Linked DNA regions of Homo sapiens: region 1 is linked to region 2. Evidence: fine-mapped expression QTL. A gene starts in region 2. The other region holds a variant in brackets. All regions are shown on one strand. Distances are between the middles of the regions. Region 1 overlaps MGAM (maltase-glucoamylase). Region 2 holds the start of MGAM (maltase-glucoamylase).

Region 1 (5,379 bases), 110 kb before region 2:
AGTAGAAACCGCTACAGGGTAACCTGGGGCTTGTCCCTAGCCACATGGCCTACAAACCTGACTCTCTAGTCCTACCGGAGTTTCAATGAGTCACCAATATCTTTTTAAAATTTTTCTTAAGCCAGCTAAAGTGGATTTTTAAATTGACATATAATTTCCAAACCATAAGATTCACTCTTTTAAAGTATACAATTCAGTGTTTTTAAAAATATATTTACAAAATTCTGAAACTATCACCACTATCTAATTCCAGAACATTTTTGCCACCCCCAAAAATAATTAGTGGTCACTCCCCATTCCCATCTCCCCCTGTTTCTGCAGCCACTAACCTACTTTCTGTCCTTATGGATTTGCCTATTGTGAACATTTCATATAAATGCAGTAATACAATATGTGGCCATCTGTGTCTGGCTTCTTTTACTTGGCATGATATTTTCAAAGTTCATCCACACCATTTCAGGTATCAGTGTCTGTTCCTTTCCATGTCTGGATAGTATCCACTGCGTGGATAGACCACATTTTGTTTAGGCATGTATCAGCTGATATACATCTAGGTTGTTGATACTTTTTGCCTGTTATGAACGATGCTGCTATGAGCTGACACGTTTTAAAATTCTGCCTGGAATATACCTAGGAGTGGAATCATGGGTCATGTGACAAGTCTTTAACTTTTTGAAGAACTGCAAAACTGCTTTCTAATGTGGCAGCACCATTTTACACCCCCATTCCTGCCAGTAATATATGAGGGTACAGAGAGCTCTTTTGGTGGCACCTAAGAACTGTAAATAACAGTGTTCACAGTAGTGAATCTTTTGTGTTTGCTTCAAATGCTCAGTATGTGGAAAAGCACACATACACACACACACGGAGAGAGAGAGAGAAAGTGAGAGAGAGAGAGGGAGGGACAGAGAGAGAGAGAGAGAAAGAGAGACTCGGTTTCTGCATTTATGAACTGCTGGAATGACATATTCAGCTTTTCATTTGCCCCAGTACAAGGTGGCCTTTGTTAGAGGGGAAATGTACCAAGATCTCATTTCAAATTGGGAAGACATCCTGGCAAAAGGTCAAGAAGGGAGATTTTATTGTTACATAAGATCTATTTTTTGTGTGATATTTTACCTTTAACTCCCCACATGCCATGCACATTTGTGACTTCATTTATGTTAATAGTGGTAACCAACAGGCCCAGCTAATCTATAACCTGTTTCCTAAAGTGCAGAAAATAGCTACCTTCACCTTCCATTCTTGCTAACTAGTAACTGGAAGATATTGAATCACCATACTGGTGTTGACCAATGAGAAAATAACAGAGCCACTTTGAAGGGTAGAGACAGGCACGTGACCCGACATCTTCCAGTTGTCTATCGGTAACAAGGCACGGCAAAGTTAGCTATTGGCGGAACTCAAACAGTTGTCACAGCAAGCTGCTGGTTGGAATCATCAGATCAGAAACTAGTAATATGAGTCACCCTTAACTTCCAGAACACCTTTCTCCAAGGCCAGATGCAAAACTCTCAGTGACTCTGCCGCTATGACAAGAACAAAGAAATATTGATGAGATCTTGAAGACATCTGCCACGGCCAACATAACCTTATCTTTGCAGGTATATATGACATTTAATGTTATAACATTAATAAGAAAGGAATAGATGTCTTCCTATTTAAGTGAAAGAGTTTGAGAGTGTTTTTTTTTTTATTTTGGCACACCTATGAAGAAAGCAAAATTATGTGATCTAAAAAACAGAGCATATGTGGAAAAGGAAGGCCCCCAGCCTCTTCCTGAATAGCTGGCCAGGAGTTGTAAGCATAGGTCCATGTTGTAGGGGCTGCTCTGGGATGGCCACAAATGGATATGGTTCCATGAGAGGTGGTTCTCAGACTGTGATCTGAGGAACAACCTCTGGGGGTATTATTGAGCGAAAGGGCTCACTCTTCGATGCGCTAGAAGCCAATACTCTGATAAAGGGTTTCGAAGAAAAGCTTTTATTGCAAAGTCGACTCACAGGACACAGGAGTCCAGCTCAAACCTGTCTTCCTGTGCTGGCTTTAAGGAAGTATTTTTATCAGAAAAGACTTAGGGGGTGGATTCTGGGATTAGCAGGTGATTGGTAAAAGAAAGAGGAAATCTAGAAAGTCCTCAGGCATGCACAGTTATCTCTTCATGCCTCATCATGGGTCTCATGTGCAAATTTGGGAGGGAGTTAGTAAGAACCTGTGGTGGAAATTCAGGCTGTGACGTCAGCAAGCTCTTTCTGCGTTAACTCCGGTAAGCCATATTGGTTCCAACAGATAATCTCTTTTTCACACATTTCTGGCTGAAATTTAGCATTTTGTTAGGTTATGAATGTAGACAACAAAACACAGTAGTTTTCATAGCACATGAGTTTGTCAATAATGCAATCACAGATCTTTCCATATTACATTATGAAATTGTAGTGGATATCTCAAAATATTGTTGATGTTGATCATTACATTGAAATTATAGCATTGTTACTTCCACTGTTGGATCTTTTCATTTAATTTGATAATGAAAAAAACACATCTCATGGGTTACTATATCATCTTTAATATTTGGATAAGTGTATCGTAATATGATAAGTTTTCTTTGAAATAGCATGCATTTTGCTTGATGCATTTAAAAACAATGTTGTGAGGAAGAATTCCGTAGGTTTCACTAGGCTGTCAGTGGGGTCCCTGACACTTCGTGTGCTCCAAA[AC/C]CCCACTGGCCTCACTAGGGCCTTAGCCATCAGAATTATATAGTCAGAATGCCTCTCCTTAAGCATTCTGTGGCAGCCAGAGCCAAATTCCACCAACATATCCTTGATGGTAACATTAAATATTTTTTAAATATCAAGTAAATAACGTTTTCATCTTTGTGGCCTTCCTGAGTTTGTTAGAGGAAAGCTGACAAGTTTCCCACCTTTTTGATCAAAGGATTCCCATGGCTGCTTTTCCATATTTCACCAGTTTCCTAGTTAGCTCAGGCCCTCATCCAAATGCCCCGTATTGTGATAATTAGATGATTTAACAATATTGTTTGTCTCTAGCCTTATGCAGGTGCTGACACATGAGTGTGCAGGGAGAATGAATGGCTTCCTGGTTATAAGAAAAGAAGAAAACACAGAGAAGTAGGTTCATTCATTCCACACACATTCATTTTCAACTCATTTTCAGGTAACATCAAAAGTTAATATTCCTGTTGAACATTAATATATAATTTCCTTATCTCACATTTTAACCCTATAGAATTTTAAGCAAGAAGGTTGCAACTCCTATTTTTACTGGAGTTGGTATTTTCCTAAATATAGCAACTGCTATGATGATTAAAATAGTAATCAATAGACCCTTCCACAAACCCACATCTTATAAAAGACTCCTTGCAGAGATGTAAGAAAAAGGATAATTATAAAGGTTATCATCCTATTGGTGGATTTGGCTGTAGGTTCTGTGATGCCGAAGAGAACCAGAAAGACAAATTCATAAGAGTTTGCTAAACAAGAACCTTAACCCCAAACAGAGATTACTCATGGTCAAAATAGCACAAAATTCAAAATCACTTGCAAATTCACTTGTTTTATTTTTATCTGGCATATAAATTGCATATTTTTATGTGAAATGTGGTTGTATACATTAGAAATAAGATTTACACATTTCAAAGCACACTACTGCAAAAATAAATTATTTTTAACCTCCAAACTCTCTTTTGAGCTTTGCCTGCTCAGATCTCAATCTCACCAGTAGCCCTTTATGCTAAGGATTTCTCAAGACCCTCTTCTTCAAGTGAGTTGACTCTTCCTTTTTCCTCCCCATGAGGCTGCTGACAATTTTACATTATGTTCTTACTTAGGATCACTTTTACTATCATCTTCTGTTTCATCTGATCTTTCCTTGTGTTTGCCTTTTCTTTGCTTATCATGCTCCCCCCACCTATAACCAATTAGGTATATTATTCCTCCCACCGCCTATAACCAACTAGCAGATGTTCTTTCTGGATACTTTCTTGAGATGCTGATTAGCTTCAAGACCTGGAACTGTCACAGAAAGCTTTCTCTTGTGTATTTAACAAAAGAATGGGGTCCATTCTATGATTACAAACGTGGACATACACACACTTCATCATGGACCCAGTTCATCTTCAGTAAATGTCATATGATGAACAGTCACTACCATACTAACCACACAGAGACATTAAGGTAATGCATAGATTTTCCACACCTCCCTAACTGCCTATCCCACAGGGCTAAGGTTTAACCTTTAGGGTTCACACAAAAAACATATAACAAAATTAACAGAAATATTTCACCAATAGTGGGTATGAACAAATTAGCAACACACAATAATTTTTATGAGTATGAAGTATAAGTAGTTTCAAAGTCATTCATAGTTAGTTAGAATCTTGCTGTAAAAATTCACAGAGTGCTTATCCACGTCAATGAAGTAAAATTATGTAGGCTGATGTTTCTGTCAGTCACATCGATGCTTAATACCTGTTAGGAACCAAAGGAAAAGAATTGGGCATCCGGTGTTGAAATTTCCTGCATGCAAATAAATCAGGTGCAAGTATCCAGTCCAAATAACCCCCTAATACTTCTACATTGTATTGTCTAGTTAAAAGACTGCCTTCAAAGTTTCAGATGAGAAGGGTGTTTTCTAATTTTTTAGAGTACAAAGATTATTCAGTGGTAGAGATGGGCCTTTAAATAATTCAATATGGGCCGGGTGCGGTGGCTCACGCCGGTAATCCCAACACTCCGGGAGGCCCAGGTGGGTGGATCATTTGAGGTCAGGAGTTTGAGACCAGCCTGGCCAACATGGTGAAACCCCAGCTCTAATAAAAATACAAAAATTAGCCAGGCGTGGTGGCAGGTGCCTGTAATCCCAGCTACTAGGGAGGCTAAGCCAGGAGAATCACTTGAACTTGGGAGGCGGAGACTGCAGTGAGCTAAGATTGCACCAGTGTACTTCAGCCTAGGCAACAGAGTGAGACTCAGTCAAAAAAAAAAAAAATGTTCAATATGCAACCGCTGAAGAGAAACAACTGCACAAACTGGAGAGAATGCCCTCTTTTCCATTCTACTGAGGTGTTGATTTTCCTTGGCACCATCCTTCTGTTTCCTCCTTCTCCTATTCCACTATAGCACCCCAGTGTTTGCCCAGCAAGAGTCCACTATTCCTGCTTCTTCCTAGGCAGATGCTGTCAAGAAGCTTTCACTGCATGTGCCCTCATCAGCTTGCATGTCTGTCCCTGAGCTGGTCAGCAACAGGATTGGGCAAAGTCCTTTATGGTATAGTTGGGGAAGTTGTTGACAAGAAAACCACAAGTATGAGGAAATAACTGTAAAGAATGCAAAACTGAAAGAAAACTTTTGTTTCAGGCTT
Region 2 (5,390 bases):
CTTAAAGTAAAATTTAAAAAAAGAATTATTACTATATATACATTACGCAAAAGCAATAGAATTTTTTTCTTCTTGAATTATTTAGTATATGAATAATTGTCAAAGCTCATTGTCCTGGTACCATTATAGTTCTTTAGGCAAAGTAGACAAACCACATGGGGGCCCAAATTATTAAAATGGCTATCTAAATTAATTTGGAAAAACTGGATATTTGTCCTCTTTCCGGCATTATAGCCAGCGTTTGATGTGTATATGGAGGTCTAAGCCATTCTTTTAAAATCCTTTGCTAACACAAGACATGAGATCTAGTGGAAAAGAGGATTCATTGTGGATAGATAGACTAAGAACAACTTGCAAAGAGGACCCCAGTGAGCCATAGCTATTCATCAAAAATGCTGGGCGATATTAGTAGGTTGGGCCATCCTTTCCCAGCTGCTTGGTGAATGGGAAGGGATAAGGTAGCTAATGAATGGCTTTTTTCTTCCAAGTCTGGTCACACCCAAGGTGAGAGATTTAAGAGTCAGCTCTGACCCTAGCCAGCTGTATGACCTTGGAAAAATCCACTTAACCCCTCTGGGTCTCAGTTTCCCCATCTGAACTGCAAAAGGATCATCTCTAGGAGACAGCTAACTCCTCCTTGAGCCCAGCAACAGGGTGTGCAAAGGCTTATATTTCTCATCACATTCCACAGCTGCCACCTGAACAAATTTTAAATGGAAAATTTCTTTTCTAGTTCCATTCCATGCTTATAGAACAATTTTTATAGTAATTTTATTAGCTCATTAAAATGTATTTGTGAGGGAATGCCTGATAATAAAAAATAATCATTGGCATCTTGTGAGAGTGTGACTGAAATAGCAACAAGCTGTCTTAAATTTAGTGTCCCACTTCATTTGGTCCCTGGTAGCACAGGGACCTACCAGCACAACAAACCAAAGACCCCCTCCATCTCACCCCCTCTTTGCACACCTACAGACATACACTTACTGTCCCACACCAGGACACAGACTGTAGACAGTTTGGACATTGGGAGGTCTTCCTCGCCCAGCAAAGCCACTGATCAGATCCTGCATGAAGAACCTAGTGGTATCCTTTTTCAGGGAGACCCATGGGGATTAGTCTCAATTTCTCTCTCTTTCCCCAAGAGTAACTCTCCCTTCCCACCTCTGTAACCAGTCAGAAAAGAAATGCCTGCGTGTGTCTAGCTAGACTGGCAACTAGTAAGGATCCAACTTTTTTTAAGTTTTATTTTAAGTTTTATTTTAAGTTTATTTTAAGTATTTTATTTTAAGTTTTTAAGTTTAAGGGCCAACAACAATTTATCACCTTCTCCTCTTCCCACGAGCACTCCCATTCTACTCCACACATGACTGCCAGGACAGATACCCTACCTTTCTCTTTATGACCTCCTCCCACATTCCACAGGAAACCTCTCCTACCCACCAATGCACACCAACTCATAAATGCATCCCAATATTTTACACACATCCTCAGACTATCCCCTAAAATTATTCTGTATTTAATCAACAGAGGCACCAAACCCATAAGCATAGTGATATATTTCTCAATTTTCTGATTATAATTGGTTCTTCAGTTACATTTTCTCAATCACAACTCCAAATCCTTTCAGAGGGAAAATGCTCTAATCTCACTCCCAAATTCTAACTCCTTTTATTCATTTCTCTCACTTCATTTCCAGAATCTGAAAGAATTTCTGCCTGCTACCTCAACCTAAGTATTAAATAATTCATCACACCTCACACAGAAACACACACAAACACACAGGTTTCACTACAATCAGGCTTATAGATCCAGCCTTAGTTCAGAAAAATATACACACACTAAGAAAAAAAGATAAATGAGAATTTTGTTCCATGTGTATGCATGTGCATAATTTTTGATTTATTATTGGTGTTGTTTATCTTTGTGTTTAACAAATTAACAAGGGCTTTTTTTTTTTTTTTGAGACGGAGTATCGCTCTACGACCCAGGCTGGAGTGCAGTGGCGTGATCTCGGCTCACTGCAAGCTCTACCTCCCAGGTTCACGCCATTCTCCTGCCTTAGCCTCTCCGAGTAGCTGGGACTACAGGCGCCCGCCACCATGCCCGGCTAATTTTTTGTATTTTTTTAGTAGAGATGGGGTTTCACCATGGTCTCGATCTCCTGATCTCGTGATCCACCCGCCTCGGCCTCCCAAAGTGCTGGGATTACAAGTGTGAGCCACTGCACCCGGCCAACAAGGGCATTTTGACTAAAAGAGATCAACTCAAATTCACACACACTTGTAGACACACATCTGTAACCGTAAAAGAATACAAGGTTCACAAACATACCTCATTACCTCTTGCAGCCGCTCCCTCTCTGTCTGAAGGATGGCTTAGCAATAAAAGCAGAGGAGCACAGTCCACCAAAGCAACCAAAGATCTGGTAACTATTTACCGACCTATCAAGAAAATGTTAATGGCTTTCAAATGCAAATGAATGGCCAGCTTTTATTTCCAGGATCAGAATTTTTAGTTAATTAGTAATCGTGGTCTTGCTCTAAGAAGGACATCCTTAAGACTTTTGGAAGGAAAAGCCAGCTCCCATGACCCACTCCATCCCCTCCAGGCACTGAATGTTTAATCGGTGGTGAGGACACCCTGTATGTCTGGTAAGAGAACACAGACACAATTTGTAGATGATAAAGAGCAAAAAATAAATGACCCCAGTATTCCAAAAGAGCCCTGGTCTCTTGCACTGACTCCGAATCTCTCAGGAACTCACTGACGTTTAGTAGCACAATCTGATGATTGTGATGGAAGGAAGTTGTTTTAAAAATGTTTTAAAAATAGTTTTCTTCTTTCTTCTTTAAGGTGTCCTTAAGCTTGTTTGCAGTATGGAAATCCTTTAACAGTCTGGTGACTCTTGAACTGCCTTTGCAGAACTATAAATAAGAGAAATCTAACAAGACTGACTCCATCTTGCTTCTAACCTCCCAGGCTAAATTATGTTTTCTAGGGGATTTTTTTTTTTTTTGGTTGGCTTTTTGCTTATTCTAGTACAAAGGCCAAGAAACCTATGAGAGGGATTTAGTTTATAGTTAAACTTGGAGTCAAGGGAAAATGATCCCCCTCCTTGCCTGGAGCTTAAAGGCGCATTCATAAGGCAAGGTTGGAATTATGGTAGGGGCTTAGACTTTGCTAAAGAATAGGCATAAACAATGTCCTGCCATGGCTTAGTTTGTTTTTCTATAAGTTGCTTACTGCCCCAGTCACACAACCAGTGTCACAAAATTCATAACTTCCCCAACTACCAAAGATAACATCACTGTATTGGTCTGTTTTCACACTTCTATAAAGACATGCCTGAGACTGGGTAATTTATAAAGAAAAGAGGTTTCGTTGACTCAGTTCCGCAAGGGTGGGAAGGCCTCAGGAAACAATCATGGTGGAAGGGGAAGCAGGGACTTCTTAACATGGCGGCAGGCCAGAGAGAGTGAGCAAGAGCAGGGAAAACTGCTTTGCAAAACCATCAGATCTCATGAGAACTCACCCACTATCATGAGAACAGCATAGGGGGATCCGCCCCCATGATCCAATCACATCCCACCTGGTCCCTCCCTTGACACATGGGGATTATGGGGATTACAATTCAAGATAAGATTTGGGTTCTGACACAAAGCCTAACCATATCAATCACTATTGTGAAACCTAAATAACTGGTCTTTTAGATATTTGTTAGCATTTCAGTAGACCAACAGACACCACCTAGTCTTGAGGCCAACACACACACCCCTCCTGGGAACTGACTCAGTTGCACAAAGACAGTTTTAGGTGCTCCTGTGATTTCATTCCCTGCCAATCAATTATACAAGTTCCCCAGCCCCATGCCCACCAAAGTACCCTTTACAAACCTTAGCCTTTGAATCCTGAGGGAGAGGGGATTGAGAAGTTTTTGCCTGCTCTTGTTTGGCCAACACTGTGATTATTCAACTCTTTATTTACTGCAATGCCTGCTGTTCTCATTGATCTTTTTGGAGGGCAGTGGGCAAGAAGAACTTATGGAGCTGAGACATGCTTATAAACCCCTCTTAGAATTAATTCTTAGGCCAGGTGCAGTGGCTCACGCCTGTAATCCCAGCACTTTGGGAGGCTGAGGTGGACAGATCACCTGAGGCCAGGAGTTCAAGACCAGCCTGGCCAACATGGTGAAACCGCGTCTCTACTAAAAGTACGAAAATTAGCCGGGCATGGCGGTGCGTGCCTGTAATCCCAGCTACTCATGAGGCTGCGGCAAGAGAATCACTTGAACCCAGGAGGCGGAGGTTGTAGTGAGCTGAGATACAAAGAAAATCAATTACATTGAAACACAGTTACTATAATATTTTTTAAATTATAGTTTGTGCCTCTTTAATGACATACTAACAATAAAGCGATATGTCTAATAGCGATTGCAATTTCAAAAACATGATAAGCGTAAACAATATCTTGAGATTGTTTTAAATATATGATGTGAAAGTAACTGTGACCTCTCTTGAAACCAAATTCATAGGTACTACTAACACCACTGTAGTTTGCAGCCTAACTCTAAATTTCAATTAGAATTTAGCAAAGAAAAGATATGTAAATATTTTCCCCCTCCAAGTTCACAGGCTTTCAGAATTATATCTACAAACCCCAGGTTAAGAACTTTGCTCTGTTACTAAGTGGACCTTCCTCCAAGTGGGGCAGAGTTCCCCGCTCTGTGATACTCCAAGAGTTATCTGTGAACCTGTGGTTGCCAGCTTCCAGAAAAATAAGCACAGAAATTGAAGGTAAGTGTTGAGAGACTTGCATTACAATTTGACAGAATCATTTCATGTCATTGATCTTGATAATTAAAAAATGGAGCTTGTATCTGTATATGCTTTTTTAAAATTTATTTTTCAAGTAATTTAGTTTTAATTTTACAAAAGCCACAGTCTGTGATATATTGGACAATTTTAAAACAATTGCTGTTTTACCACACATAGTTTAAAAAGTCCTGCTCAGCTACTGCTATTTCTAGGCATTTGTCTTTATGGGCTAGTGAAAATTCAGAAAAAAATCTGGGCCAAGAGACCTAAATTTATAAACCATGTATATCATCTGGAAAATACAAACAAAAATCACTATCTCTTATCACAGTCGTTTCACAGTAGACATAGACAGATAATCAAAATTGAATCAATTTATCTCTTTGAAAGTTTACTTCCTTATCCTTACTTTTCTGATTTCATGAACCATCAGTGAACAACAACCACCGTGGTAACACTGACTTACCGTGTTTCTTTGGCATCATAGAATCAAAGAATTTACAGCTAAAAGAGGAAAGAAAGGAAAACTGGCATGCATGGAGGCTGGCCGAGTGCCAAGACCTTGGGTCTGAA

The links.
Region 1: its variant is fine-mapped to the expression of MGAM in neutrophils (BLUEPRINT, PIP 0.95).

Annotation. Positions count from the first base shown.
Region 1 is chr7:142,104,922-142,110,300 of GRCh38, reverse strand. It overlaps MGAM (maltase-glucoamylase), which reads right to left. Exons shown (of 71, transcript NM_001365693.1): 71 at 3,554-4,487. The coding sequence ends at 4,410. Among named protein-coding and RNA genes, the nearest start is that of MGAM2, 4.1 kb to the left of the region's middle. The variant AC/C (reference allele first, on the strand shown) is at 2,717.
Region 2 is chr7:141,992,875-141,998,264 of GRCh38, reverse strand. It overlaps MGAM (maltase-glucoamylase), which reads right to left and starts at 2,386. Exons shown (of 71, transcript NM_001365693.1): 1 at 2,335-2,386. RefSeq lists an enhancer at 2,187-2,688.